5 separate regions of the Homo sapiens genome follow, and regions 1, 3, 4 and 5 are each linked to region 2. The links come from fine-mapping of genetic effects on gene expression. A gene starts in region 2. Each other region holds a variant in brackets. All regions are shown on one strand. Distances are from middle to middle.

Region 1 (6,230 bases), 60 kb before region 2:
TGAATGGGGCACCTGTTTCACAGATGAGCAAACTGATGCTCCGAGGCAAGTTACTCAATCCCCTGACCCCGGCACGGTGCCCCGCCTCTTGGAGCCCAAGCCAGCGGGGCTGAGGCAGGGGCTGCTGGGGGTGGACAGGGGAGGTGGGCTTGGGAGCACTGAAGAAAGGGTGACACTCCAGGCATCTGTGAAAGCCCAGAAGACATCCCTAGACAAAGGAGGAAACAGGGTTAGGGAAGGGCACTCCTAGAGAAGGAGCAGCTTGCAGAGGCCCAGTAGTGGCACCACAGGGGCAGCTGGAAGATGTGGCACCACGGGGGCAGCTGGAAGATGTGGCACCACGGGGCAGCTGGAAAGTGGGGTTGGTGGGCAGAGGTGAGACTGAGTCCTGGGAGAAGTCCACACCGGACATGGGAGACTTTCCCCTGACCTGATGGGCTTTATTTAAGCAAGGAAGGGACTGGTGTGAATTAGATTGGAGACACTCCCTCTGTCGGCACAGAGACAGCACTCTCCACTAGAAATCTCATGCCAGCCTCGTGAATAATTTCTAATTTTCTATCAGCCACGTTAGGAAAACGGAAAAAGAATTTGATGCAAATTATTTTAGTAATATATTTTATGGAACCTAATATATCCAATATATTATTTAAACGTGTCATTCATATAACAAATTATGAATGAGATATTTCACAGTCTGTCTCATACTAGGTGGGGACATATTCCACGCTTACCGTACAACTCAATTCGGACTGGCTGCACCTCATGTACTCAGAAGACAGGCTGCAGTCTTGTATGACATCTTGGATGAGACTCAGGCCGCAGTCTTGGATGACACATACGTGGACATCGGGCTGTGGTGGCCGGAGTAGAGTCAGAGAGGCTGGAAGGAGGCCCTTTTCCAGGGCAGGAATGATGGTGCCTGGCCTGGAGCTGTGGTGGGGTTCCTGGCCCTCCATTCAGCTGCCAGCCCATCCCAGCTTGCACCGGAGGGAAGCAGCGGGCCTGGGCTCTGCGGCATCCCAGGGGGGCAGGTCACAGGGCAGCTACCCTACCCCAGCCTCCTCCCTGACCCCGCCGGTGTCTGCCCAGACAGCCGGCATCCCCATCCCGCTGGGCTGGCTCCCGGCCCTGCCCTACCCCCAACTCCAGACTCATGTCAGGCTTCCTGTCCCAGCCGGAGGGTGACCCGAGGCCTGACCCCAGAGGCCCAGGCGATGGGCCCGGAAGGAAGGCCGCCTCCTTGATGCAGCCACAGCAGGCGGGGCTGGGGCTTCCCCATGGACTCCCTCGGGAAGCACTTCACACTTTGGTGGGCGCTCAGCCAGGGCGGCCCCCAGCAGCGGCAGGAGGCGAGGGCCTCTGGGGCAGGGAGGACATGCACCTGCGCCTGGGCCTGTGAGGGGCTCCCCCACCACAGCGTGGGGTCTCTGGGCATGCCAGGGTTGCCCCCACTAGACAGCCAGGGTTCTCAGGGAACACAGAGCAGGCAAGCAGGCCGGCTTCTGCTTCAGCCTCAGCCCCTGTCCGCACCTGGGGCAGCACAGGACAGGTTTAGGAACAGACCCTAGCTGCACGCCTGGTGAGGACCTTCACCTCTGGGCCTCCCGCTGCTCCTCTGTGAAAATGGAGGTATCGGGGTGTTCGTCCCTTCTAGGGCCAGAGAGAGATGGCAGCGAATGCACGTGGTCCCTAAAGGAGAGCCGTCCGTGGCCACGTAGGAAAGTGTCAGGCCCAGCTCCTCATTCCTGGGATGTGGCCTTTTCTCACCTGCGCTGAACTCTGCTCTCAGGACTCAAACCCTGAGCTGCTGTGGAGGCTAACTCACTCATGCTCCAGGCCCATCTTCTGAATAAGTTTCCCAGACCCTCCAACCTGCCCTCCGTGTCGGCCCTGGGGTGCCTGCCTCTCCTTCCCTCTTCCTCTTCTTCTCACAAATATGGGCCGAGCTCATGTGATACGTCAGGCACTATGCTAGGACGTGGGGGTCCAGCTGGAAGGGACAGGACAGAACCCTGCCCTCCTGGAGCTGGCAGTCTGTAGCAGACACTAATCAGTTAAACAGATCACAAACTGTGACTGTCTCCAGCAGAGACACCTGGTTGGCCTTGGGGGAGCACATAGCAGATGGATGGGGGTCCCTGCCCAGGGCTGCCGGCAGGCGGTGCACCTTGCACTGCTCACTTAGTCCCACAGCCTCGCTTGCCCGCAGGCAGTGTGTCCTCTGCACACTTTCAGGGCTCCGTCCTTCTGCCCAGCGCCTCTGCAGGCTACGCCTTCTGTGCTGGGCCTCTGGGCATAGTTACTAGGCAGCCAGGGCTGGGGCCAGCCCTTGGCCTTAGCTCAGCTCCAGGGAGGATCAAGAGGGTGTCCAGTGTGGCCGTACACCTGGGCACCTGCTTCAGAATCCAGGTCCTTGGGAAACAAGTGGCTTTGGTCTTGCCAATGCCTTTGCTCTGTTTTCAGCTGGGAATTAAGCTGGGGAACAGCAGGAGGGGCAGCATTTGCTGGCCCTGGTGCAGGAGGTTGTGGGTGAGAAGAGCCGAGTTCAGGTCCCCACCTGGGCAGCCTGTGGTGTGAGCTAGAGGTGCAGAAGCCTGCGGGGACACGGAGGGCAGCCGGGCAGGAGCCTGCGGGGACACGGAGGGCAGCCAGGCAGGAGGCTGCGGGGACGTGGAGGGCAGCCGGGCAGGAGCCTGCAGGGATGCGGAGGGCAGCAGGGCAGGCTGGGCTTTCTCCAGTGCTTGCTCCCCTCCCAAGGGAGTTCCTAATTTGGGTCCCCCTGCTCTTCCTTGGTTGAGTGGGCCCCACGCACTTGGCTATGATCCAGCAGACTCCTGCGTCCTGGTGTGTCCCTGCCCCACCTTCCCACTGCCCTCGGCCTCTCTCCCAGCCCCTGGGAGCTGGGTTTTTTGCTTCCAATTTCAAATACATCAGACTCCATCCCACTGTCCTATCCCAAGGTGTCTTTTGCCTTTCTGGGAAAATAAAGTGGCAGGGGAGTGAACCCACCGCAATGGGACAGCCCTCCTCCTGTCCTCCGCGGGAGCAGCATCTCGCAGGGGCTCCGCCAAGCCTTCGAGGCCCAGCCAAAGCTGGGGTGGGGGCACTGGCCGGAAGCTTAGGGGAGGGGGAGCCTGCAGGACTTCACTCCTGTGCCCGTGTGGCCGGGGGTACCTGCTTGACCTCTGAGCTGTCACCGGGAATAGTGTCCAGCCTGCCTGCCTGCTGGGACCTCTGCAGAGACCATGAGCTCAG[T/C]CCTCAGGGCCTAGGTCCTGGGTTAACACTGAGGGCTGTGCGGCCAAGGACCCCGGGGTGGGCATGACCGGGGTGTGTGGAGGAAGGAAGGGGGTCTGGGAAAGGATGCAGACAAGAGGTGGGTGCTGGGCCAGCACCTGCTTCTGTTCTTGGCCTCAGGACCGTCTATGGAATTGGGAGTAATTCTCTGCAACATGGGCCCTGCAGCCGAGGTCTGGGCAGAGGCGTCAGGGCACAGAGCAGTGGTACCACCATGCCAGGGAGATGCTCAGGCCAGGACCAAGCAGAAAGGGGAGCTCACCATAAACTCCCTGGGGGGAGGGGAGCGCTTTACCCCCACAAGAATGGGCAGCAACAGGTCATCTATCCTCAGGGCCCATAACCCCTTCACCTGCTTCCTGGTGACCTGCTGCCGGGAAGGGCCCTGGGCCTCAGGGCCTTTGTGGGGCTTCCTGTACCCCCCTGAATGCTGTCACTGTGCCTGAAACCTCACCAGTGGGGCCTCATTTCTTTGGTCCTATAACACTCCTTGATTTTCCAGCGTTAAGCACACAGTCATGAGCTGTTGCCTGAAGCTGACACTTACTGAGGGTGTTCTGTGCAGCAGGCTTTGTCCTGAGCCTTTTGATTTTTTTTTTTACATGTCTTGTTTATGCAGGATAAATCCCAGTAACCCATTTGCAGAAAAGGAAGCAGCAGCTCAGAGAGGTTAGGTAGGTTGCCTAAGGTCACCCAACTTGTGGCAGAAGCAGGATGGAGCCCTGCCTATGTGATGATGGGGCCAGGAGCACCCTGATCATCTTTAGAGCCCACCCCTAACCCAGGTGGGGGCAGCAGGTCCCTGTAAGCATGCTGGATGAAACCAGGCGGCTGACAGAACGGGAGGGAGGCTGCCCTTGGGCTTCCGCATTTCTGGATTCGAGCTCTGCTCAGTCACAATGGGCTGTGTGCCCTTGAGCAAGTTACTTCACCTCTCTGAGCCTCAGTGTCCTCTTATCAAATGGGATACTAAGATATAATTCAAAAATATGTTCTTGAGAATTCAATGGGAAGATCCTGCCGGAGTCTGGAGCCTGTCTATTTAGTTTGACAATAAATAATTGGGCTAGTATTTACACTGATCTCTAGTAAGGGGGGCACAGAGCAGGGAAGGGTGTGCCGGGAGGGCTGAAGTGTGCCCCTGGGCATCGGGGCGACTGTGCCAGCACCCGCCTCTAGGTTTACAGCCCTTCCTGAGAACTAGAAAAATCCCCTCCTCTGAGCAGATGCCATCCTTGGACTCATGGGCTTGGCACCTGGTTTGGCCCCACAGAAGAGACTCCTACCCAGTTCTCTTTTCTAGCCCAGAAGAATGGCATTTCTGGACCATCTGGAACATCTGGATCATCTCCCCTGCTGATGCACAAACAGCCAGGCCTCCGGAGAAGGGGGGTGGGACAGGGTGTTGCAGGCAGAGGGAACGGCCCCTGCAAAGGATCATCAGGGAGACTGAGCAGGTCAGGATGGCTGCCGGAACAAGCAGCGTCTCAGTGGACCTGTGGAGGGCAGGGGATGAGCAGGTGAAGGAGGAGATGGGTGGAGAGCGTGTACCTGGGGCAGGCCTGGAGGCGGGAGGGAGGGGCTGGAGCCAGAGAAAGGGGCGGCTGGTGGAGGGAGGTGAGGCTGGAGGGGCTGGGCCTGGTACTTTGGATGAAGCCAGGTCACTGCAAAGATGAAATGTGATAGCACTGGGCAAAGGAAGCAAAGCCCATCACCATGAGACCAGCTCCCAATCCTTCCCTGGAATTCATTTAGGAAAAGATCTAGAGAAGTCAAGGTGGGGCCCGGAGGGGATGGGATCAGGGTCCGTGGGAAGCAAGTTCATGTCTTTGCACCGAGGATGGACAGGAGTGTGGAGTGTGGGAGGGAAGAGGAGGAGGAAGCAGCCGAGGGGAGCTGGAGGGGAGGGGTGAGAGGAGGGGCTGGAGGAAAGCCTGGGGTTGTGTGCAGGGACCCACAGAGGACTCAGGTGAGTGAGACCGCAGGCAGGCCGTGAACAGCCCCAATCCCACGACAGAGGCAGCCAAACCCTTTCCCAAAGATGTTTTATAGAGACCTGGCGGGGCAGGGGGGGACTTTGGTCTTTTTCAGACACAGAAGTTCCTTCTGTGACTGAGGGTAAGTGTCTTAGCCTCCTGCCTCAGTTTCCTCATTGCATAACAGGACTGTTTCAGTGTCCACACTCAGAGTGTGAGGGCTAGATGAGGAAATGCACGTGCAGTAGGATGCCACCTGTCTTTGGAATGTCTGCATGTCAGGTGCCCCAGCCCTCAGGATCCAGGACAGGTCTGGCTGCGGTGGGTGCTGGATGGATGCTGAGGAGGGGAGGGACAGTCACTGCATACCAGCCTCTGCCAAAATGGGGAGCCCAGGGGCAGGAGTAGACAGGAAGGACTTCCTGGAGGAGGAGGGCTGGCAGTTTGGGAAGATTTAGATGGGGAGAAAGTGGGGCAAGGGCATGGGGGTGGGAAGTCTGGGAAAAGATGTCCTGGCAGGGTGGAGGGGAACGGAAGTTACGATGGTAGTGGGGAAAAGCATCTGCCCAGGAGCCAATGGTGCAAACACAGTGTGTGTGTGTGTGTGTGTATGCACACCCGTGTGCACAAGCACCTCCACCGCTTTCCCAGCCTCCTAGCCAGAGCCCTGGGGCTCAGCTCAGGCCCTTACCCCCAGCCCCACCCGACCACAGGCTTCACAACCAGAGGCCAAGACCCCGGCAAATGCACATCCCCTCGTCCCTCTCTGTCCCAGCCCCACTGCTCTCCCAGAGCCTGCTGCCATCCCCTCTCTGTCCTCCAGGCCTTGGGTCCTCCACACCCTCCTGCTGCCACCTGGATGCCCCAACCTCCCGTGGACTGTTGGGGTCTCCCAGGGGCCCCCGCACTTCTGTCTGTATGGCTCTTGTCCACTCTGCCCGGCTGACACCTCCGGCC
Region 2 (5,000 bases):
TCCCAGGATTCTCCCCAAGCCTGTTCATGCCCGGCCCATTCCACTCACAGCAGTTGGACAGCTCTGGTTTCACCGTGCCTGGGTTTGAATCTTGATTCTGCTTTCGCTTAGCTTCTGCTTCCTAATCTGCAAAATGGGGGTGTCAGGGATTCCTCTGCAGGGCTCAGTGTGGACTTGGTGGGTGGGTGTAAGTCCCTGGCATGTGGTCAGCACTCGGTGAATGTCTGAGAACTGAAATGAATCCAGCATGGAGGAGCCTCCTCCTTTGCTCCCGACTCCCTGCAGGATGGTAAGAGCGTGGGGAGGAAGGAGGCTCCAGCCTCTCGGGAGCCCACTCACCCCAGCAAATTTGGGTGGCTGGGATAGAAACCTCTCTGAGATTTTGGGCAGGAGAGGAGGAAAATAGCATGAAACAGGCAGGGGGTGTTGGTGCTGCTCAGGCTAGATGAAGCCAAACATTTATTTATTAATGCTTTTTTTTTTTTTATCTTTTTTGAGACAGGCTCTCGCTCTTTCACTTAGGCTGGGGTGCTGGCGGGATCAGGGCTTACTCTAGCCTTGTCCTCTTAGGCTCAGGTGATCCTCCCACCTCAATCTCCAAGCTGGGACTATAGGAGCATGCCACCATGACTGGCTAATTTTTTATTTTTTGTAGAGATAGGGTCCCACTATGTTACCTAGGCTGGTCTTGAATTCCTAGGCTCAAGTGATCCTCCCGCCTCAGCCTCCCAAATTGCTGGGATTATAGTGTGAGTCACTGTGCCCGGCCTTAAGCTAAACATTTAAAAAATAAGAATTAAAATGCAGCCACAGTGAAACGGGAAGGGGCTGCTTTTACAGGTGCTGAACTTCCCGGCAATAGAAGCATTTAATGGGAGGTTCCCTTTTTCCTAGGACCTCAAAGCTGGAGTACCAGGGATGTTGCCTTGACCTTCCCATGTGTGGATTTCTGCTTGAACACACCAAGTACAGGACACCCTGTTTAGCAGCTAAACGTGGGAATTGCACCAGCTTTACTCCCAACTTGCTGGGCAATCTTCGGGAGTTGCTGACCTTCTCTGTGTCTCATCAGCAAAACAGGGAGAACACTAGCTCTCCCAACATGGGCTGTGTGAGGACCAAATGAGCTGAGGAGCCCAGATTTGAACCCGGGTCTGCAAGGTTATGTCCTCTGAGCCATCCCCACCCCTGCCCTTAAGGACCAGGGGCCTCTGGACACCATCAGCTTGCCCACCTGTCCAGGATTTGCACGCACCTGCTCGGTGCCAGATGCTGGGCACTGGGGACAAACCAGGTGAGGTGTGGACCGTGACCTGTGTTGTCACTGATTGGGGGACTTTCTGGCAGAGTGGAGAGTGCAGTGGGCTGAGAGACAGGATGGCCAGTGGAGACTGAGCTCTCAGAGGCGGCGGCAGCTGATGGGGACCATGCAATGGGAAGGATGGAGGCCCTGGGATAGTCTGCGGTGAACTTCCAGGCAGAAGGAACAGCAGGTGCAAAGGCCTTTAGCTGGGAAGGAAACTCTGGGTTGGAGGAATAGCTTGCAGGCGCTCTGAGAGAGGCTGGCAGCCAGGTGGCAGGGAGGCAGCCCAGTCAGGTGGTCTTGGGACAGTTTAGGGTCTCTGGCCTTCACCAGTGAGGTGGTGTCTGGAGACTTTTGCAGACGAAGGCAGCTCTCACTCCCATCTTCCCGGGGTCCCTCTGGCTGCTGAGGGTGGATGGGTGGAAAAGCATCTTTCAGGGAAGTGGAGGCAGGGCTGGAGCAGTTGAACATCTGACTGGGCCAAGGGTCCAGGGACTGGCATGGAACAGGGCTGGGTGGGTGAGGCCGCCTGGGAGACCCCAGCTTGCCTCTGTTTCCCCCTGTACTGGGGCCTCCTGCGTGAACCAGCACTGGTTTTTCCAGTAACTGGAGCCACAAGCCTCCCTAGGAACGGCTGACCCATAAGAGGACGTCCTCAAGGTCCCCAAGGGCTAGAGGCTGAGATGCCGCCTTCGCCTGGGCGGGCCTCGCAGCCTGGAGGCAGGCGGTGGTGCAGCTCGGGCAGGCCCCGTCCACACGCCTCCCCGCTCTTCTGAGCACCACGCGTCCCGTGGGCTCCCTACCCGTCCTGATAACACGGCGGTCCGGGGGCCTCGAAGCCGGTCTGACCCCAAGTACCCGGGCCAGGCGGCTGCCGTCTTGTCGCCCCAGCCCATCCCCTCAGCCAGCCCGCCTGGCGGCACGGGACCTAGCCCCAGTCGACTTAGGGGGAAACTGAGAACTCCAGAAGTTTCGTGAACTCCCTGGCTTCGTCCGCATCCCGCCCTCTGCCTCTTCGCTCGGGCTTCAAAACTGCCCCTCCGACGCCCGCCTGCCCCAGGCCGACCTGGCCTAGGCGCCCGGCAGGCACAGGAGCCAAGGTCAGTCCCCGAGGCCGCCCGCGCGACCGGAGCCGCCTCCTCCCAGCCCAGGGGCGGCCTCGGGGGCGGCGGGCGCGCGGCCGCGGCGTGGGGAGCGCTCCCATTGGGCCGTGCCCCCACGTGACCCAGCGGGTCCGGCGCGCGCCCTAAGCCGGTGGAGCCGCGGCCGCGCCTGTGCGCGAGGGCGCGCGCGTCCCGAGCCCTCCACCCGTCGTGCCGGCGCCGCCCGGACCGCCAGGTCAGTCTCCTCCGCGCCCGCTCGGGGCGGGGGCGCGCGGCGCTTTGTGGAGGCGCGTGGGGGGCCGTCCGCGCGCGAGCCCGCCGCCCGCTCCGGGCACGGCTTCGGGGCCGCGCAGCCGGGAGGGCCGCCGCCTTCCCCCTGCCCGCGCGTCCCGGGACCCTGCGCCTGGCGGCCGATCCGGCGGGAACGTGGGCCTGGAGGCTGCCACGTGCCGGGGCCGAGCCTCAGGAGGCCGCTGTTTCCCCAGGCGAGCCACAGAACACCCCTGGCTGGAAGGGGGTGACCCGCTCCCGTTTCTGGGTGCGCGGGAGACCTCCTACCCTGAGTTCATCCTGCGCAGGGTCCCGCCCAGGATCTGGCTCTGCCCCCATTCACGGCTCATTTTCCTCAGCTGCACAGTTTGGGGGGCTGGAACCCCACAGCCTTCCGTGCCTCCAGGGCGGGTCGTAGATGTCAGTGGAGGTCAGGGGAAAGCAGAGCGTCAGGTCTCAGGCCGGGTGGAGTCCGCCTCAGACCATACCAGTGTTGGGACTCGGGCGGCGCCTCAGCCCTCCAAGCACACCCCGGTAGAATCAGGTCAGCAGCCTTGATCCACGTGCCTCAGGGATTAAACGGGTGACTCCTGACACGCCCCTGGGCAGCTGGTGGCCCAGGGGTGGGGTGGTGGCATGCTTAGCTCCAAGTGGGCAGAGCAGTTTCACCCTGCCGGTTCCCGGAGGGAAGCCCTTTATGAGGGAGGCTTCCCTGGCCCTCTGTGATAGCGGCTCCAAGGGCAGCGTGAGGTCCAGGCTAGCTGGTCACAGTGTGTGCCCGGGCACCCTCAGCCAAGACAGAAAGGCACGTGCTGCACCCCCTCTCTCTGCCTGCGGGCTCTGGGGTGTGCCCCGCACACGATGGTGGGTGTTGGGCATCCACCTAGTCTGTGGACCCTGGGGGCCCTGCTCCCAGGTTGGAGCAGTGTCCTCGGCTGCAGACCAGAGGAGGTCACTGAACACAGGGTGCCTGTGGCCTTGCACAGACAGAAGCCGCCTGGCAGCCCTGTGCAGAGCCGTGCTTCACTGAGTTCCTGCAATCCTCCCAAGAAGTTCGTTAACCCCATTTCTCAGATGAGGAGACTGAGGCCCACAAAGGTGGAGTTGGTGCAGCCCCTAGCCTGCGGGGCTAAGCAGAGCCTTGTTGTCCCCATCTGCAAAGGGGGCGTTGGAGCTGCTGTAAATGGGCCCCGAACCTGTCACCTGAGTGGAATTAGGCATTGGGGATCTCCCCATCACCACGCCGGCCCCCCTCACTGTGGTTACGAAGGAGGAGAAGCTGCCCTGTGTAGGAATTCCTGGGCTGTTTCCAAATAGCCCCGCTAGGGAGCTGGTCACCCCTCAACACCCCCAACGTGTTCTCCAAGCACTTACTCTGTGCCAGGCCCAATGCTGGACCTGGAGATGGGGCATGGCTGGCTGGCTGAGCGGGGCAGGTTGCGGACAGGCCCCCGCAGGCAGTCGGCGTGATGGGAGAAAATGCAGGCGGGGATGAGATGCAGCCTCCAGGTGGTTTCCTCAGCTGCCTGCTCCTCTCTGCCTTTGCCCTCCTCCCGGAAGCTTGCGCTGACCACTGGAGTAAGGCTGGGGGCCTCAGCTGGTCCCCTCTCTGTCCCAAGTAACAGCCCAGAACATGGTGAGGGTGGCTGGCTGATGCAGTCAGGCACTGGACATGGGAGGCAGGAGGAAGGCCGGGAGGTGGGCAGCTTTCTCAGACAAGTGGGCAGTTTGGATGGCGAGGAGGTCTTGGAGGCACCATGGGTGGCTGGGCTCAAAGATGACATGAGGGCATGCTTAACAGATGCTTAACCAAATCCTGAATTGGCATTGGCCAATTTCTGTGGTGTAACTACTCCCAAGCTACACAGACGTGACTTTACTGGCTGAGGACTTGGGCAGAGGTGCACACAGTCAGACTGAGAGGGGGGCATAAGCTGGTGTGAGCCCTCCCTCTCACCGCCAGGGTGGGCAGAGTGTCCGCTGGTGCCCAATGCCTATGCACGTGACCTCCTTAGGGACTTACATCCAGATGGCGGTGATACAGCTTGGGGAGGCCTCTCCCTGGTTGGCAGGTCCTGGCGAAAGGGTGAGTTAAGTGGAAAGTGTACCAGGCTGGTGTCCAGGTGGCATTTGGCCAGAGGGGCTGAGCTGGGAGCTCCTGGGCCTGGGGCTGGCAGATAGTGGTGATTTTTCGCCCCCCAAGACCTTGGGCTTGCCTTGTTCCATGAAGGTCCCAAATCTGACCAAAGGCTGTAACCAGATGGTCACTGTCCCAGACCACCCCAGGGCGCTTTCTCACCTCGAGAGCACCGTTTCTCCCCACC
Region 3 (6,230 bases), 98 kb before region 2:
TCACTGCTAATTTTAACTACCTGATGTTTCCCCACAAAGTAAATATGAGGTGTTCATGCCACCACCATGGCAGCGTTCCAGTCACTCTGCAAATTCGGCCAGTTTCGGTCATGACAACGACATGAAACACAACAACCCAGGCGTGAGGACAGCCACCCTTGGGATTTATCTCCACTGGGGATGAAACCAGGCCGCCCTCCTCCAGGGCTGCCAAACACAGCTCCCATGAACGACCAGGTCAAGCACGTTGTCCTTGGGTCCAGAGACAGACCAGGCAGCCCACGCTGCGTGTGGTCTTACCCTACGGTCCAGAGACTGCAGGGATGTGGCGGGGGGGCCTGGGGAGGATCTTTCCTGGACACACATAAACAACACCTAAATTGTTTTGTTTTGTTTTGTTTGAGACTGGGTCTCACTCTGTCACCCGGGCTGGAGTGCAGTGGTGCGATCTCAGCTCACTGTAACCTCCGCCTCCTGGGCTCAAGCGATTCTCCTGCCTCAGCCTTCCAAGTAGCTGGGATTACAGGTGCCTGCCACCATGCCGGGCTAATTTTTGTATTTTTAGTAGAGACGGGGTTTCACCATGTTGGCCAGGCTGGTCTCAAACTCCTGACCTCAAGTGATCCGCCCACCTTGGCCTCCCAAAGTGCTGGGGGTGATCCACCCACCTCAGCCTCCCAAAGTGCTGGAATTACAGGCATGAGCCACCGCACTGGCAAAACACTCCCTAAACTGTATACAAAATTGCATCTATTTGCATTTTTGTGAGAACAAGTTTACAGCTTTCACCACATCTCCAAAGGAATCCATGACCCAGAAAAGATAGAGAACCAGCCCAGTCTGGAGAAAGAGGGCTGGGGGACACACACGCGTTCATCTAACTGGCCAAAGGAATTTTTGTTGTGATGTGGTTATTATCTTCTCATAATTTTTTTTTAAATCAGTCCTCCCTTTTGTAGTTTACTTCAGAATTTAGTTGGGCAATTTAGGTTCATACCAAAACAAAAAAGGGGGGGCAAATAGAAACAAAGGAAAATAGATTCTAAGTTTAGGAAAAGCTATAAGTAACAGCGCAGATCACTACAGAGCTATTTTCTGAAGCTCATCAAACACGTACTTGGTGATGTCAGAAAGTAACAGTCAAACCACATTTTCTAGAACTGATCCAAGAGGAATGGACAAACGTATGAACGACTACAGGTAAAACTACTGGCATCTGTCAAATAAAACAAATCAGGCGAGCAGTGGTGTCTGGAGTGGAGTCCCTGGGTCAATGTTACTGGCGTGGCTTGCCAGGGCAGTGTGAGCTTGTTGTGAACCCTCTGTATAGGTGTTAACTCATGCATTTTGAAAAGTAACCCAGGACAGACCCAGCCAAGGAAAGACTGAGCTAGAAAAAAACAGCAAAATACTGGTTTCACATTTCATAACCAAAGCACAGGCCGTCCTCCAGATAAAACGTTCATCTCATCTGCATGTTAGGTTCAAAGAAGCGGCTGGGACACTACCGCTCAACCCTCAGATTCTGGGGTCTGGCCACCGCGTTGGCCCTCAGAGCTGCTGCTCCTGCGTGCCTGGTGCTGGGAGGCCATGCGCTAACTTAGGTATCACAGCACAGAGAAACCAGACCTCACGGCCCTACTCCCCGCCCCTCACCGCCCTGGAGCTGCCTCGAAGCTGCACACGGCAGACAAGCGGGTGTCCATGCACAACCTGGGGCAGGTTCTCACAGGAGAAAACGGCTCACACTCAGGAGACCTGCATACATCCCCGACCAGGGCACGCGGCATTCTGGGCCCGCCAATCCAGCTGTGGGCTCAGGCCACGTGGCACACTGGGCCCACTCTGGGCTCAGGTTCCTCAGCTATGTGGGCCGACACAGACTTCTGCTCCCTCCCCAAGGCTCTAAGTTACCGTAAACTTATGGCCACAGCTCCCACCCAACAGGGAACCACACAAGGAGGCCGTGGAGCACAGAGCCCCGCACGCGCCCAGGGCGGGAGGCTGGCCAAGCACACAGGCTCCTCGGGTCCCTCCTCGGAAGGCTGCGGCCCGCTCCTGCACCCCTGCTCTCTTGGGGGGTTCCAGTAACAGCTCCCTCCGTGTGCCCCTTGGGCCTGGAGTGGAAGCAGCAGCATGAGGCTTCACCCCTCCTTGCTGGTGTCCCTCAGCCCTGCCCGACCCTCGGTCCAGTCCTTCCACTGCCTCCTCTCTCTCTCTCCTTGCAGGTGCCACTTGCCGCCTGGTAACACGAGGACCTGACTGACACAGCAACTAACATCGCTCCACAACACACACAGGCATACACAGTCTTCATGGGTCACTGAAGGTGTCAGCGACAAAAACCACACCCTATCAACGCTGATGAAGGGCTGGCTCTAAGAAGTTCTCCATCAGCTTGTTAACAAATCAAGACTAGAACCATCAGCCTTGAAGCTGGCTCTAAACTGCAGGACAGATGAGTGCGCAGATGCCTGACTCTGGGACACTCAGGCAAGGGGCCTACATACCCCCTAGGGCCCAGATTACAGGTCAGTCATCGGAAATGGGGATTGGACACCCACATGCATGGTGACTCGAGGACAGCACCATCCTCCCCCACCCCCCTACTGAGGCTGGATGCGTGGGCCTACGTAATGCACGCCAGCAGTTCACTGTGACTACAGCCACCTGCTTCCTCAAGCCCACAAAGTGAAAAAGAAAATGCGGCCGGGCGCAGTGGCTCACACCTGTAATCCCAGCACTTTGGGAGGCTGAGGCA[G/T]GTGGATCATGAGGTCAGGGGTTCGAGACCAGCCTGGCCAACATGGTGAAACCCCATCTCTACTAAAAATACAAAAAACTAGCCAGGAGTGGTGGCAGGTGCCTGTAATCCCAGCTACTTGGGAGGCTGAGGCAAGAGAATCACTCAAACCCAGTAGGCAGAGATTGCAGTGAACCCAGATCACGCCACTGCACTCCAGCCTGGGCAACAGAATGAGACTCCGTCTCGAAGAAAAAAAAAGAAAATAAAATGCACGGCAATGGCACTGTACAAAGTGCAGGGTGGAATCCGCAAAGTTCCACTGAAGACAGTGTGGCAATGTCTGCCTTTGAGCTTAGCTTAGAGTGTTGGGACAAGGGGGAAGGCATGCTCGGAAATGCATTTTCTGTGTACAAAACTTCTCTGCAATCAAAAAATGGAAACAGACCGGGAGCAGTGGCTCATGCCTGTAATCCTAACACTTTGGGAGGCCGAGGCGGGCAGATTGCCTGAGGTTGGGAGTTTGAAACCAGCCTGGCAAACATGGTGAAACCCCGTCTCTACTAAAAGTACAAAAATCAGCTGGGCGTGGTGGTGCACACCTGTACTCCCAGCTACTTGGGAGGCTGAGGCACAAGAATGGCTTGAACCTTGGAGGTGGAGGTTGCAGTGAGCCGAGATAGTGTCGCTGCACTCCAGCCTGGGCAACAGAGCGAGACTCTATCTCAAGAAAAAAAAAAAGTAAATGTAAAAAAAAAAAATCATCCGCGGTAAAGATCTACAGAAGAAAAAGTGAGAAAAAATGGTTTGAACAAGGGTTGAGACATCTGGTTTGGGGATTCAGGCCAGCTGGGAGCAAAAAGAAGACCCTTGGGCACACCACGCTGCAGACCAGGAGGACCTGAGTCCGTGGCCCAGGATCTCTGTAGACCAGGGTCTCCGTGGACCAGGGTCTCTGTGTACTGTTAGCATAGCACTCCCCCAGGGCCAACCGAGGGACCCTGCCTGAGCTTCCTGGGGACAATGTGCCACCTGAGAAAACCCACAGCGACTGGTCAGGGTGGCTGGACAGAAGCAGGTCTCAGTCAACGCCTGCTGTGAATGAACAAGCCGCATCGGGAGGGACCAGTGCGTGCAGAGGGAACGTGCACCGGGGCCAGCCCCTGCCTAGAAGCAGAGCAGGAGGTCAGCAGAGGCAGCCCTGACCCCAGCCCCCGCCTCACCAACCCAATTCCAAGGTAGCACTGCAGGCAGATGGCCAGTGGGGACAAGGCTGGCCTGAGGCTTGCTGGGACACACGGTCCCTGCTGGTCCAAGGCTGGGACTGTGGAGCCCCATGAGGCCTCCCCAGAGCGGTCCCCTCACAGCCAGTTCCCTGTGAGCAGTGGAACTGCACCAGCACTCCTGTGGCAGGAACGGCTGTGAGCTCAACGTGGCAACCCACGTCCCGGGGAACCCATGCATGCTAAATGGGGGCCACCAGCCAGCATGGCAGGAGAAACACACATGTGAAGACAGAGGGCAGCACAAGAGAGGGGAGCGGCGGTGCTGAGCCCCAGGCCCAGTTGGTGCGGGACCCCTGGGAGGGAGGCACCCTGGGAGGGAATCAGCTCCTAAGTCACCACTTGCAGAGCCCACCAAGGGCCAATGCCAAACCTAGGCCTCATCTAACCCTCTGGGGGCTCCCAGGGCACTCCCAAGTGGCAGCCTCAGCTCGAAGGTGAGGAAAGTGAGTCAGGAACTGGCAGGTAATGGAGCATTCACACCCGGCAGAGTGGGGGCAGCAGGTTCCCCAGGTTCTCCGGGGACAGTCCTCCCACTGGACTTCAGGAGAGAGCTGCGGGCAGGCCTGTCTGTCTTGGGTTGGCAGAGGGGTGTGGACATTCCAGAGAGGGAAGTGAGAACACACACTGGACAGGAGGAAGCAGCGCTGTGTGGTCAGAGAGGAGCTGCCACAGGCTGGAGGCATGTGAGCCAGGGAAGGCAGCCCCTGTGGGTGAAGGGAAAGCAGGAGGGAAGCTGGGACCACACCTGCTTTATGGGTGGGGCCCTGGGGCTCAGAGAAATTAGAGATCTGCCCCAGGCCCCTGAGAGAGGCACCAGGATCCAATCTCTGCAGGACCTCCCAGTCCTGGCAGGAAGAGCCCAAGGGCACCAGGCGGAACTCCCAGGGCCGCCACCTTCAAGTTAGGCTCAGTTCCTCCATGAAGATCTCTCTCTTTTTAAAATGGAGATAACAGCGCATCACAGGGCTATTAACATTGAAAGTTTAAGTGTTATCAGGAACTACCGCACTCAGCAGGGGACAGGTATAAGGAAATCCCTTCTGCAATGACGTGAAGGCATCTAAGATGCAAAGAAGCTGGTCTGGAACACCCACTTCCACAACACAGCACCCAGGGGGACGCAGAAAACAGGGTAAACGGCTCCACAAGCAACTCCATCTCCCTGAACTGCCCCACGGCAGCACTGACTGAGGCCCCTCGATTGACCACTCGGAACCCAACATCAGTCTGAAAGGTCTCCAGAGGCTGGAAGCACCTGGGAAGGTTACCCTGGTTGAGTGAACGTGATGAGAAAAAACAACTTCTCAAGGCTGAAGGCCTTGAGTGCCCCAGCAGCCAGCAGCCCTGCACCGCCCAGGATGGTGCGGAGCTCATCTCGTAAGGTCAGAGGCTCCCTGGCTTTGGTGCTGGAGCCCTTGCCCCTCTGGCACAAAGGGACAAGGTGTCCACAGCCCGGGGTCAGCCCGACAAGACCACCATCCAAGCCTGGCCCCTAGGAAACAGGCTTCCAGCCTGGGCAACATGGTGAGACCCTCCCTATATAAAAATATTTAAAATTAGCAGGGCACAGTGGCTGACGCCTGTAATCCAACACTTTGGGAGGCTGTGGTGGGCGGATCACAGGAAGCCAGGAGTTTGAGACCAGCCTGGCCAACACAGTGAAACCTGGTCCGTGCTAAAAATACAAAAATTAGCCAGACATGGTGGTTCATACCTGCAATCCCAGCTACTCAGGAGGCTGAGGCACGAGAATCGCTTCAATCCAGGAGGCAGAGGTTGCAGTGAGTTGAAGTGCAGTTGCCCACTGCACTTTAGCCTGGGCAACAGAGTGAGACCCTGTTTCAAAAAACAGTAATAAATTAGCCGGGCATGGTGGCACACGCCTGTAGTCCCAGCTACTCAGGAGGCTGAGGCAGGAAGATGGCTTCAGCCCAGGAATTCAAGCTGTAGTGAGCTATGATTGCACTGCTGCACTCCAGCCTGGGTGACAGAGCAAGACCTCATTTCTTAAAAAAAAAAAAAAAAAAATTAAAATTAAAATTAAAATTAAAAAAAAAAAGAAGGCCAGGCGTGGTGGCTCACGCCAGTAATCCTAGCACTTTGGGAGGCTGGGGTGGGTGGATCACCTGAGGTTAGGAATTCAAGACCAGCCTGGCCAACATGGTGAAACCCCATCCCTATTAAAAATACAAAAATTAGCTGGG
Region 4 (6,230 bases), 52 kb after region 2:
TATCTTGGTGAACAAGTATCCTGGTTCAACCCCTCAATGTACAGCTGGGGAAACTGAGCCCCAGAAAGGGAAAGGGCCTTGCCTAAGGTCACACAGCGAGGCAAGGCCTCACTTTTATCAAGAGCCGAGCTTGTGGGGCACCTGGGGGTAGAGCGCCCATGGAGGGCGGCCTAGGCAGCTGGTGGGTGGGAGCTGGCATGAGGCTTTCGCTTGGGTTCCCCTACTAGTGTCAGTTACGGAAACAGCACCCTCCTCGCCCCAGTCCCACCCCTGCCTGAGCTCACAGCTGCAAAGTGTGCCACACCCAGCGGCATCTGCTTCTACCCATTCCCCTTTGGCTTTACCCTGAGTCCCACAGGCAGGACAGGGCTGAAGTTGGAGCCTAGACTTGCCTGAGTCTGCACCTAGTGCCCCTGCAACTCTGCAGGGATTGTGCCAGGGAGGGCCGAGTGGGGAGACAGGTCCCCAAAGTGTGCAGCCCCCCTCCAAGGGCTGGGAGTGGGAAGGCAGGAGTACGAGGGGGTCCGTCTGGGCAGCCTCCCCAGTCAGGGTGAGCTCTGGCATGGGTTCTGCTGGGGTGTCAAGGAGGCTGGAGAAGGAGGCTCAGACATCTGAGGTGCTCTCTGCTGGCCTGCATCCCTACCTTGGTGAGGATGAGGATGGCCACCTTCCTCTCACGCTCCTGTGGGCTCTGCAGGCTGGGCAGCAGCTGACGCAGCACCGCTGGGATCTGCCTGCAGTGGTTCTGCACCATGGCCCTGCAGGGGTGGGCCTGGGCTGGTGGTCACTGCTCAGAGCCCACCCTCCTGCCCCCACCCATCTCATCAGGGCTGGCATCCCGGAGGGTCCCAACGTGGCAGGCACGTTCCCACTTCCTTTCCACCCACTGGCTGCCCACTGCGTGCCAGGCTTGGGTTGGACATGCAGGAGACAGAGAAGCAGGCACAGCCCTTGTTCCCTAGGAGGTCACAGGCCAGGGTGAGGGCCGGGGGAAGACACTGCATCAACAGGCTCTGAGCGTGTGCCTGTGACCGGGGGCAGGGGGCCGTGTCCTGTCACTGCAGTCCAGATACCCAGTCCCCTGGATGGGCGTGGCCTGAAGCAGGCTGCCTCGACCTGCCCTGGCCCCACCGTACCTGGCAAGGAGGCCCACGCCCTTCGGGTAGGTGTGGATGGTGGTGAAGAGCTCCCAGGATCCCTGCAGCTCCAGGTGGGCAAAGTCATGCCAGTGCCCCGTGGTGGACAGCAGGCTCTTCAGTGCCTCCAGTGACGTGCTGCAGCTGAGCAGAGGGGGCTTAGGGCTTGCCTCAGGCCACAAGCAGCCCCCTGGGCCACCCCCTGCCCTGGGAAGGGTGCCCACCTGACCCAGATAGAAAGGCACGTTCTGGTTCCTATGCCTGGCGTCACTGAGGCCCCCTGGGGCTACTCCCTCCTGCCCTGTTTTACGCGGAAATGCTGGGACCCAGGATTGGCGGAGCCGGGCCGAGCATGGGGAGGCAGCATGTGCCCAGTCAGACCCCGGGCCTTGCTTGGGCAGGAGACCAGGGGGTGCCCTTCTAGGGAGGGGCACTCTGCTGAAGGGCACCTGCCCTTCAGCTCAAGGATGGCAGCATTTAAATATGGGCCAAGAGTATGGAGGGTAGCAGCGGGCGAGGGCGTGGGAGACTCAGGGCGTGTGGCGTAGCGGAGCCCAGAGAAGTGTCCATTCTCCACTCCTGAGACTCCTGCCCTCAGAGGACATGGAGAAACCCGCGGCACTGGCCCTCGCTTGTGAGTGACGGAGAAACCCGCGGCACTGGCCCTCGCTTGTGAGTGACGGAGAAACCCGCGGCACTGGCCCTTGCTTGTGAGTGACGGAGAAACCCACGGCACCGGCCCTCGCTTGTGAGTGCACGGCTTGTGGTGTCACCGTGTGCTTGGTAGTTGCCAGGTACCATGGATGGTGCCTCACCTGCCCAGCCTGAGGTGGCCCTCTACTGTCGCTGTCCTTCAGCAGAGGAGGGAGCAGTCCTGTCACACAGCCTGGGCAAGGGCACAGAGGTGGGGTCAAGCTGGGCCCTGGCTCCAAACCTGCCAGTGATGTCACTGTCACAGGATGTCACTGTCACTGAACGCAGTCCCTGGGGCACAGGTAGAAAGCCCCAGAATGCAGGCCCATGAAACATGAGATGGCCCTGGCTTGCTGGCCTGTCTCACTGTTCCAGCCACACACCCCTGGCCCGGCCCCTGTGCTCGGTCAGTGTAAGTGCATCACCCTGGATGTGTGAGCATGCCTGGACGAGGCTGTCAGCTTGGACCAGGCACGTTTCTGAGCAGATTTGCAAAACCAAGTGTCAAATGATGAAATGCCATCCGTGAAAGTTCTGACAGTGCCAATCCAAATGCCAGCTGGCTTGTCCTCTCACCCCAAGCTGTGTCATAAAAAAAGGCAGCATTTTCCAGGTCACTGGTCTCAGCCATAATGCGACAATGGTTTTCAGAAGAAGGGGACTTGGTGGGGGGAGTGGCATTTTGTTTGCTCTGGGAGGACTCCAGAAGCTTCTGGTCCTGTGACTTCTTGGGCACTGTATTGGCTTGTTCTTCAAGATTGCCTTGTCCCTGCAGCCCCAGCAGGGCTTCCAGAAAGATGGGCTGATTCAGCATTCTTGGGAATCCATGCCCAACTCCCCTGCAGGTCCATAGAACACAAAACCACCTCCAGCCCAGGACCCCCGGCAATGCTCAAGGACATGTGTCTCCTGAAATCCATACGCAGTCCCAAGACCGATGAAGGTGGAGCCCCTTGAGTCTCTGCCTCGCTGTGGACTCAAGGAACCATCCTCCGTTCCTGCTGGTCTCAACGTCGTTGCCTGCCTGCAGCCTCTTTGGACACTTGGCATCCCAGTGATGCCTGCCCCATACTCGACCAACCGTCCTTTCCCCACTCTGGCCCCGGAGAGGGCAAAGGCACCTGAGAAAGAGGAGGCAAAGCCCCTCTGCTTTCCATACTCCTCCCCAGCCTGAGGGTCCATGAGACCCTCTTCCCTCTCCCATTACCTCCTCCTCTTCTGGTTTTATTTTTAATTGTGGTAAAATGCACATCTCATACAATTTACCGTTTTAAGTGTACAGGTCAGTGGCATTGAGCATATTCATAATATTATGCAACCATCACCACCATCCATCTCCAGAACATTCTCATCTTCCCACACTGAAACTCTGTCCCCATTAAACATTAACTCCCCATTCTCCCTCCATCCAGCCCCTGGCACCCAGCATTCTACTTTCTGTCTCTGTAGATTTGGCTACTCATGGACCTTAAGTAGGTGGACTCACACAGTATTTGACTCAGCAGAATGTGCTCAAGGTTCATCCATGTTGTAGCATCAGAATTTCCTTCCTTTTCAAGGCTGAATAGTATTCCATTGTATGGATGGACCACACTGCTTATTCTAATTCACCCATTGATGAACACTTGTGTTGCTTCTACCTTTTGGTTATCATAACACTGCTGTGAGCAGGGCGTACAAATATCTGTCCCAGGTGCCTGCTTTCCTTTCTTTTGGGTGTACACCCATTAGTGGAATTCCTGGGCCATATGGTAATTCTATATTTAATTTTTGGAGGAACTTCCATACTCTGTTCCAAAGCAGCTGCAC[C/T]GTTTTACATTCCCACCAACAGTGCACAAGGCTTCTGATTTCTCCACATCCTCGCCAACACTCATTTTCTGATTTTTTTTTGGACAGTAGCCAACCTAATGGGTGTGAAGTTCCTCCTCTTCTTTTGATCACAAGCCTTTGGCCCCAAATCCCCAGGGGACAGAGGGAAAGATGAAGATGAGATGAGGGTGAGAATGATGAGTGCCTTCGAAATAAAGAGAAACGATGTAGCCCATTTGAATTAAATAGAGTTGGCCCACATGGATGACGTGTGAGAACAATGAGAATTCCTTTGTGGGGCAGGGTGGAGACTGGCTGGAGGAGGACCCAGCTGAGAACTGACCAACGCAGGAAACATCTCTAAGGAAAAGGCTTTGTTAGTGGAGGAGCAGGGGAGAGGGAGGCCCCTCTGGCAGGCCTGGCAGCACCTGTTGCAGTCCTGCCCAGGGAAGGGTGCCCTGCTCAACCCCACTCGCTGCTTCCTGGTCCCAGAGGCCTGTCCATCTAAGCAGGACATGAGAACTTCAGAGGCCCAGGGCTGGCCCCATCAGGCCTCAAGACTCCCCTGCTGCCCCATGGTGTCCTGTGCCGCCCCCACCGTTTTGGGCATGCAGAGAGAGTGGCTACTCAGCACTGCTCATCCAGTTGTCCTTCTGGGCCCCTGTCCCCACCTTGACAGTGCCACAGCAGCCTGGCAGGGACCTCAGACCGTGAGCCACCGGGATACACCTGGGTGTCACTCTGCTCTCAGGCCTCCCTTTCTCCCTGGCTCCGTGGTGGTGCTGGGTGGCATGGCTGCTGGTTTGGCAACCGGAGCCTGGGCCCCTTCGCGGTGGTCGAAGAGGCCTGGGCCCATGCCGCTCCCTGGAGGGCGTGGGAGCCAGGCCTGGCCAGTCAGAGCCGCACAGGCCCCTGTGGCCAAGGTGATTGGTTCAGGATTGGGTATGTGAGCAAAGCTAGGCCAATCAGAGCCCAGGACTGTGCCCGTGGTGAGAGTTTTTTCTCTTGGGGCTGCGGGAGCTGCCGGGGCCACCTCCAGGGCTCCAGGAGAACCTGCCCGGAGCGGCCTGAGCAGAAACCACCCGTGGCCCCGCGCGAGGCAGAAGTCCCTGCTATATGGGGAGCCTGAGAGAGACAGACAGACGTCCCAGCTGTATGGGGAGCCCGAGAGAGAGACACGTCCTTGCCGGTGGGGGAACCCACGAGAGACAGATGTCTCAGCTGTATGAGGAGCCCCCAGTGAGACAGACGTCCCAGCTGTATGAGGAGCCCGAGAGAGACAGACAGACGTCCCAGCTGTATGGGGAGCCCGAGAGAGACAGACAGACGTCCCAGCTGTATGAGGAGCCCGAGAGAGACAGACGTCCCAGCTGTATGAGGAGCCCGAGAGAGACAGACGTCCCAGCTGTATGAGGAGCCCGAGAGAGACAGACAGACGTCCCAGCTGTATGAGGAGCCCGAAAGAGACAGACAGACGTCCCAGCTGTATGAGGAGCCCGAGAGAGACAGACGTCCCAGCTGTATGAGGAGCCCGAGAGAGACAGACGTCCCAGCTGTATGAGGAGCCCGAGAGAGACAGACGTCCCAGCTGTATGAGGAGCCCGAGAGAGACAGACAGACGTCCCAGCTGTATGAGGAGCCCGAAAGAGACAGACAGACGTCCCAGCTGTATGAGGAGCCCGAGAGAGACAGACGTCCCAGCTGTATGGGGAGCCCGAGAGAGATAGACAGACGTCCCAGCTGTATGGGGAGCCCAAGAGAGATAGACAGACGTCCCAGCTGTATGGGGAGCCCAAGAGAGATAGACAGACGTCCCAGCTGTATGAGGAGCCCGAGACAGACAGATGTCCCAGCTGTATGAGGGGCCTGAGAGAGACAGACGTCCTTGCTGGTGGGGGAACCCGCGAGAGACAGATGTCTCAGCCGCATGGGGAGGTCCCAGTGAGACAGACAGACATTCCCGCTGTATGGGGAGCCCCCAGTGAGACAGACAGACATTCCCGCTGTATGGGGAGCCCCCAGTGAGACAGACAGACATTCCCGCTGTATGGGGAGCCCCCAGTGAGACAGACAGACGTCCTTGCTGTATGGGGAGCCCCCAGTGAGACAGACAGACGTCCTTGCTGTATGGGGAGCCCGCGAGAGACAGACAGATGTCTCTGGCTCTTCGGGACCTTCCAGTCTATGGGTGAGGGCAGTAAAGCAGGTAAAAGGCGCAGATCACAGATGGTAGCTGATGGCGGGGCTGCGGCGAGAATAAAGCAGCAGAGGGTGGGAGGCGCCGAAGGGGCTGCTATTTTGGAGGGTGGTGGGGGAGGCCTCAGTGAGGTGCGGGTGAGCAGAGCCTGCAGAGACAGGATGGCTGGGGGAAGAACATTCCAGCAGGGGGAGGAGCAGACGGGGTGAGGCTTTCTCCCAACCCTCCCACGTTCCGGGAGGAGAAGGTTTTATTAGCTTATTAGGAAAGATTCATGCATTTTGCATGGTTGAACTGAATAAAAAAGGAACTTCGTGCACATTTGAATTCGGAGGCAAGATGAGAAGAAGTGGCATTTTTTTTAAGTGACTTGCCTTGGGGAGAGCTGTTAAAAC
Region 5 (6,230 bases), 67 kb before region 2:
ATATACCTAAGGGCTGGGTGCTGTGGCTCACGCCTGTAATCCCAGCACTTTGGGAGGCCGAGGCAGGTGGATCACGAGGTCAGGAGTTCGAGACCATCCTGTCTAACATGGTGAAACCCCATCTTTACTAAAAATACAAAAAATTAGCCAGGCATGGTGGTGGGTGCCTGTAGTCCCAGCTACTCGGGAGGCTGAGGCAGGAGAATGGCGTGAACCTGGGAGGCAGAGCGTGCAGTGAGTCAAGATCGCACCACTGCACTCCAGCCTGGGCAACATGGCAACACTCGACCTCAAAAATAAGTAAATAAATAACTAAAATTAAAAATAAAATAAAAATATACAAAAAATGCCTGGGCGCAGTGGCTCACACCTGTAATCCCAGCACTTTGGGAGGCCAAGGCAGGTGGATCACCTGAGGTCAGGAGTTCGAAACCAGCCTGGCCAACATGGTGAAACCCCATCTCTATTAAAAGTACAACAATTAGCCAGGCATGGAGGTGGGTGCCTGTAATTCCAGCTACTTGGGAGGCTGAGGCAGGAGAGTCACTTGAACTCGGGAGGCAGAGGTTGCAGTGAGCAGAGATCGTGCCATTATACTCTATCCTAGGCAACAGAGTGAGACTCTGTCTCAAAATATAATAATAATAGATAAATAAAAATATAAATATACATAAAATAAAATACAAAATAAAAAGACTGGAGCCTTGTGTTGGTCAAAGGGCTGGATGTGGGAGTATACCATCTCTGAGTTCAGAGGTGACCAGGCATTTGTGGGGCCCCTCACCCCCTGCTCCCCACTCAACTCCTGTTCAGGTTCCTGACACAGGTATGACCCCATTGCTCTCACAACCATGATGCCATTTGAGCCTCGATGACCAATGACAGCTGACATCTATGGAGCATTCTCCATGCTAAACACTTTTCATCCCTTGCTCATTTGAGGCCACCTGCAATTTTAGGGCCATATTCTGATCACCCTTTACCGATGCATAAATGGGCCTGGGCGTGGCCCAGTGGCCTGGACACTCGTTAGGGGAAGGCAGAGCCCTGGCCCCTCTGTCCATTGCCCCAGGCTGTCCTCAAGGCCGGTAATAAGGTCACTCTCATCCTGCAGGGGTGGGGTACAGAAATGAACGAGACTAACCCAGTTCTTGCTCAACCTGCCAGGTTGGTTTGACCCTGTTGGCACCCCACACCTGGAGCACCCTCAGGCTACGCCCTCCCCACCTGCTCTTTCCCAGAGCAGGGACTTCTGCGGTCGCAGCTGGGCTGGGGGCCCCTAGCCGTGGGGGGTCTGGGCCTTTGGGATACCCTCCTTAGTCTCCAGAGAACATGGGTTTGAGGACCTGGGCTTGACCCTCCTGGGTCTCCAGGCAAAGCCTCAGCCCCACCAGCTTCGAGGGTGAGGGCAGGTGCACAGCCACCGTGGGAGGCAGGCATGTCCAGGGAGCCCGGTCTGTGACTGGGGGAGATCACATGGAGGGTTGAGGCCAACTTCCCACATCTACAACATTCGGCCGTGACCTCCCCTCACAGAGGCCCGGGAGGGTCATGGATTCTGCTCTGAATGCTGGCCCAGCAGGTGACACACACCACAGCTCAGCCCCCTTGTTCCAGGGCCATGAGGGGCTGGCTTCATGGATGAATGAACCCCAGGCCCACCTGGAGGCTGCATCCTGGCTACCCTGGCCCCAAGTTGGGGTGGGGTCAAAGGGCACAGGCACAATTGGATCCAGGTGTTGGAGTCCCCTCCACTCTCTGCAAGCTATGACATCAGACAACCTGCTTCCCTGCTCTGTGTCTCAGTTTCCCCATGTGTATAGCACATGGCACTGGTATAGGTTGTTGTGAGCATTCGCTTCTCTGAGGCCAATGAGACAGATTTGTAGCCCATTGAGTGGGGGCCACCGGGGCACCAGATGGGGATTTGAGAGTGCACAGGCATGCCCACATTCTGCCTCAGACTGCAGGTGAACAGGCTCACACACGTGTGCATGCACATACATGTACACATCCACATGCACATGCCGGCGGCTGTCCCATACTCCCCTTTTGCCACTGTCCCGCTGGTCTATGTGTGCCCACGGATCCTGCCCCGCTGGGTGTGCCCCACTGCACAGGCACACACACACCCCTCCTGTCCTTTGCTCACACACACAGTCCCTCAGTGTCCCATGCCCCAGCCCCAGGGTGTCTTGCTTTTCATTTTGTCCCCTGCCCCTTTTGTCTGACACATGTTTCTGTCTGTCACTCACGTCTTCCTGAGGGAGTCTGCCCTGGGCCTAAGGGTTTGAACAGCTTCAGAGAAAGAGGAACTGGCCAGGCGCTGGACCAAAGCCCCTTCTTCCTGCTGCCCTGGCCTGGGCCCCAGTGGGGGTCCTTGAGAGCCAAGGCCACCCCGCCTGTCCTCCTGTTAGTGGCTGATGCTCCATCTGCCTGTGCCAGACGCCCTGTTGGCTCTCGGTCCAGCGGCTGTTCTGGGATGTGTCTCCAGGTGCCCCTCGAGGAGTCCCCTCCTTTCTGCAAGGAATGCCAGCCACACCCTCTTTGCCACTGTCCTGTGGGCCCATTGGGTTTGGAAATGTGGGCCTCGCTGACCAGGCGAGTCCTGTGTGCAGGCTCCTGAGTGTCCGCCTGCACGCACAGCACCGATCAGGTGGACAGACGCCTCTCAGGGGAGGACCCTGATGCGCAGCTCCCACCTCCCAGTGGCCTCCGTGATGACGCCATGGTGACTTCTGCAGGGACTAAGGCTGTCCATCCCGTCCTGGTGCCCAGCCCAGAGCCTGGTCTGTGGCAGGCCAGCGAGGAACAAAACCCACCCACCTTAAACATGGCTGCTCCGCCCACCCAGGGCCTTCCAAGGCACAGAGTCTTTCTGACCGGCCTGCAGCAGACATAAGACCAGAAGTCT[C/T]GTGCCTGGGCTGTGGGCTCCCCAGGGTAAAGCCACCAGAAGCTGTGCAGGTCCAGGGTGTAGTCTGTCCTCGCCATGCTTGGAGCCCTCTGGAAGGCCTTGCGCTCCTCTGGGCCTCACGTATCTCTCCTGTCGAGGAGTCTGGGGACCCTCCCTCCCCTCGCTGCCATGAGTGGGGTGTGGTGGAGGGGCCTGGGCCTCAGCTCAGAAGCCCCAGGGCTGGGCTGGAATCCTGGCTCCAATCTTGGCCACTGGGAAGCACTGGGCTCTACTTCAGTCTCCTCACCTGTATAGTGGGAACACCAGCAGTACCCACCTCATGGGCCCTTGGAACAGGGGACTAATGGGTGGCCCTGGGTGAAGTGGTGCCACATGGAGGCTCCAGGAAGGCCAGCCTGCTATAGGAGGTGCTGACTTGGTGGGGCTGGGGGGTCTTGATCCCCCATTCAGGTGGCTCCAGGACACTCATCTGCCATAATCCTGGGGTCACCTGAATAAGGTCTCTGCTCATCCCTGGAGGCTCCTTCAAGAACACTGTGCTCCTTCCAGGACTCTGCCCACAGTGGGTGGGAGGAGCCTTCGCCTCGAGCCTCAGTCTCCTCACCCATGACAGGGAATGCAGCCCGACGGGACCACAGGCCTTGCAGGAGGGGGTGATAGGCCCTGCATAAAGGGGGCAGCGATGAGACGGCAGCAATGAGACACAAGCTCTTCAGCCCCAAGGCCATAGCACCCCTGAGAGTGAGCTCCTTCCGGAAGCTTCTCAGGCTCCCTGAAGCTGCTGGGGAACTAGAAGCGTTCAGTCTGGGTCACCTAGCATGACACCCCGGGAAGCACAGCCCCAGCTCTGACTCCGAGCTCTGGGGGCGAGAGGGGGCTCTCGCATCAGCACGTGGCAGTCCCTCAATGTCGAACCCAGAAGAGTGAAGAAAAACCAAGAGACAACAGCCGGCCTCGGTCCTGAGCCCGACCGGCCTTCGGCATTGACCCCAGCAGCGCCCCGTGGTGTGGCTGCTGCTACGCGACCCCCCGGGGGATGCGGAGGCCCTGGGGCTGCTGAGCAAGCTGCCACGTGGTGCCTGCCATGCTGGGGTCTGAGGCCCCCCACCTGCCGTGGCCCCGACACACATAGCACATCATGGGACCTGCGGTTCACAGAGGATTGTACTCCCAGGGGCTCTGCCGACCCTACAACCAACCCCCACCACGAGGGGCGGCAAGGACAGGATCAGCCCACTTTGTGAATGAAGAAGCTGAGGCCCAGGGACGTGAAGGGCACACGGGGGCTGGACTCCTGGCCAGGAGGTAAGGGGCGGGCAGGGTCTCTGCAGACGGAAAAGATGGAAAGGCGTTCCCGGCTGAAGGAGCAGCGCTGCGGAAACAGCAAGGCCTGGAGACCCTCTAAGGCTGCCAGCCCCCTCGAGGGCTGCAGCCACAGAAGGCGGGGGTGGGGGTGGCGGGGGCAAGGACCCAGAGAGGGCCTGGGGTCAAAGGTCATCCATACTCTGGCCTCTTCGCACACACTGTTCCTTCAGTCAGATGCCGCCCGGCCTTGCCCAGCTCCCATGCCCTCCAATCTAAACTAAAACGCAGCGCCCCTCCCAAATGCTTTCTCAGCCATCCCTATTCCAGAGCAGGAACAAAGACGCTGGGACCAGCTCAAGACACAGACGTCTGGACAGCCTTACTGGAGACGGTGGGGACTTGGAGGCCAGGGAGGGCGAGGGGCCGGGGGGACAAGGAGGGGCGGAGGAGGGGAAGCTTTGGTCCAGCCTGGCAGCCTGAGGTCCAGTCCTACTCTGCCTACCCCGCCGTTAGGCGAGTCCAGCCCTGCAGGAGTGCCCTAAGCACTAAAGAGATTTCCCCAGCTTGCCAGCTTTCACCCCGGAGCTCAGCAGATGGCTGTGACTGCCTATGGTGGGGTCTCCGGCAGCTTGCTTCCCGCAAAGCTCCTTCCAGGGCTCAGGGCTTCCTTCGGGGTTTCCTGCTACGGTACGAACTCACTCGAGCCTCATCACACCCATTTCACAGGTGGGCTCAGAGAGACGCCTGCTGGGGCACACGGCTAGACAGCAGCAGGCTGAGCTGAGAATATGCCCACCGGGGGTGGGGCGGCAGGGCTGGAGGTGCCAGGGCTGCTCCCCAGGTGGGGTGGGACCGGGAGAAGAGACATCGATACCCCTGTGGATGCCTGAGGTCAATTAGTCGAGGAGGAGGCAGAGGAGGAGGAGGCAGAGGAGGAGGAGGCTGTTGCAAGGGCCAGATTTTGAAATGTAGCTGCAACAACTGCCCTGGTAAACTTGATTCACCCCACCAGGCTGGGAGCCACCTTCTCCCGGAGCCTCCTTCTCCAGGGAGGGCTACAGCCCCCAGCCCACTTGAAGCAGGGGTCCCAGCCCTCTTCATCTGTAAAATGGGGTGGAGAGTTTCTTTCTTGGGGTGTTGTGGGTTGAACTGTGACTCCCCAAATTCAAACTGAAGTCCTTAGAATGTGACCTTATTTGGAGGGAGTCTCCACAGAGGTAATCAAGTTGAATAAGGTCGTTGGAGTGGCCCTAATCCAATGTGACTGTGTCCTTGGAAAAAGGGAGATTTGGAGACAGATGTGCCACATGAAGGAGAGGATGGCCCTCTGCAAGCCAAGGAGGCAGGCCTGGAACGGACCCTTCCCTCTGGCCCTCGGAAGAACCCAGCCTGCTGACACCTTGATTTCAGACTTCTGGCCTCCGGAGCTGTGAGGCAATAAATGCCTGTTGTTTCAGCCGCCCAGCGAGTGGAACTTTGTTCTGGCAGCCCCGGCAGGTGACAGGGGGTTGTTAAGGTTGTTTAGATGTGTGCGAGGCACGGAGCGACGCCCAGAAGACGAGGGCCTCCGGTGAGTGTGAGTGATTCCTAAACACGGCACACAGCCAACAAAACAAGACAACACCAAGACCGGGTGTGAGGTGGGCGGGAAAAGCAGGACTTGTAGTTGACCTCTGGGTCCTGGGGATGGGGGCGGGCACCAGGCATCATGATGGGTAGGAGCACAGCTGAAGGCCGGGGCCCTCGGGGGACACACTTAGCCCCCCTGTGCTTCGGTTTCCCCCTTGGCCAATAGCACCCACCCAAGGGGTTGGAGGATTACCTAAGGCAGGGGTTGGCCAACTCTTTCGGGAAGGGCCCAGGGAGTAAATCTTTTCTCCTTTGCGGGCTGTGAGGTCTGTGTTGTAAGACTCACTTCTGCAGCTGCAGTTTGCACGCAGCCTTACAGCAGATGTAAAGGAGTGGGTGTGGCTGAGTTCCCAGGAAACTTGATTCGTGGACACTGAAAGCA

Evidence for each region. PIP is the estimated chance that this variant, and not a neighbour inherited with it, causes the effect.
Region 1: its variant is the best candidate, but not a certain one, in a credible set for the expression of PTP4A3 in whole blood (TOPMed, PIP 0.65).
Region 3: its variant is the best candidate, but not a certain one, in a credible set for the expression of PTP4A3 in whole blood (TOPMed, PIP 0.73).
Region 4: its variant is the best candidate, but not a certain one, in a credible set for the expression of PTP4A3 in whole blood (INTERVAL, PIP 0.82).
Region 5: its variant is the best candidate, but not a certain one, in a credible set for the expression of PTP4A3 in whole blood (INTERVAL, PIP 0.61).

What each region holds. Positions count from the first base shown.
Region 1 is chr8:141,328,401-141,334,630 of GRCh38, forward strand. No RefSeq gene overlaps it. Among named protein-coding and RNA genes, the nearest start is that of LINC01300, 9.0 kb to the right of the region's middle. RefSeq lists enhancers at 707-1,243, 1,244-1,778. The variant T/C (reference allele first, on the strand shown) is at 3,259.
Region 2 is chr8:141,389,444-141,394,443 of GRCh38, forward strand. PTP4A3 (protein tyrosine phosphatase 4A3) reads left to right here and starts at 2,578. Exons shown (of 6, transcript NM_032611.3): 1 at 2,578-2,641. ASTILCS (antisense transcript of PTP4A3, liver carcinoma survival associated) reads right to left here and starts at 3,178. Exons shown (of 2, transcript NR_187488.1): 1 at 2,965-3,178; 2 at 425-1,708. RefSeq lists an enhancer at 1,650-2,270.
Region 3 is chr8:141,290,466-141,296,695 of GRCh38, forward strand. All of the region lies in intron 1 of SLC45A4 (solute carrier family 45 member 4), which reads right to left. Among named protein-coding and RNA genes, the nearest start is that of SLC45A4, 15 kb to the right of the region's middle. The variant G/T (reference allele first, on the strand shown) is at 2,762.
Region 4 is chr8:141,440,500-141,446,729 of GRCh38, forward strand. LOC105375789 (a long non-coding RNA gene) reads left to right here. Exons shown (of 3, transcript XR_928722.3): 1 at 1-6,230. It also overlaps MROH5. Among named protein-coding and RNA genes, the nearest start is that of ASTILCS, 51 kb to the left of the region's middle. The variant C/T (reference allele first, on the strand shown) is at 3,639.
Region 5 is chr8:141,321,463-141,327,692 of GRCh38, forward strand. No RefSeq gene overlaps it. Among named protein-coding and RNA genes, the nearest start is that of LINC01300, 16 kb to the right of the region's middle. RefSeq lists an enhancer at 2,564-3,064. The variant C/T (reference allele first, on the strand shown) is at 2,915.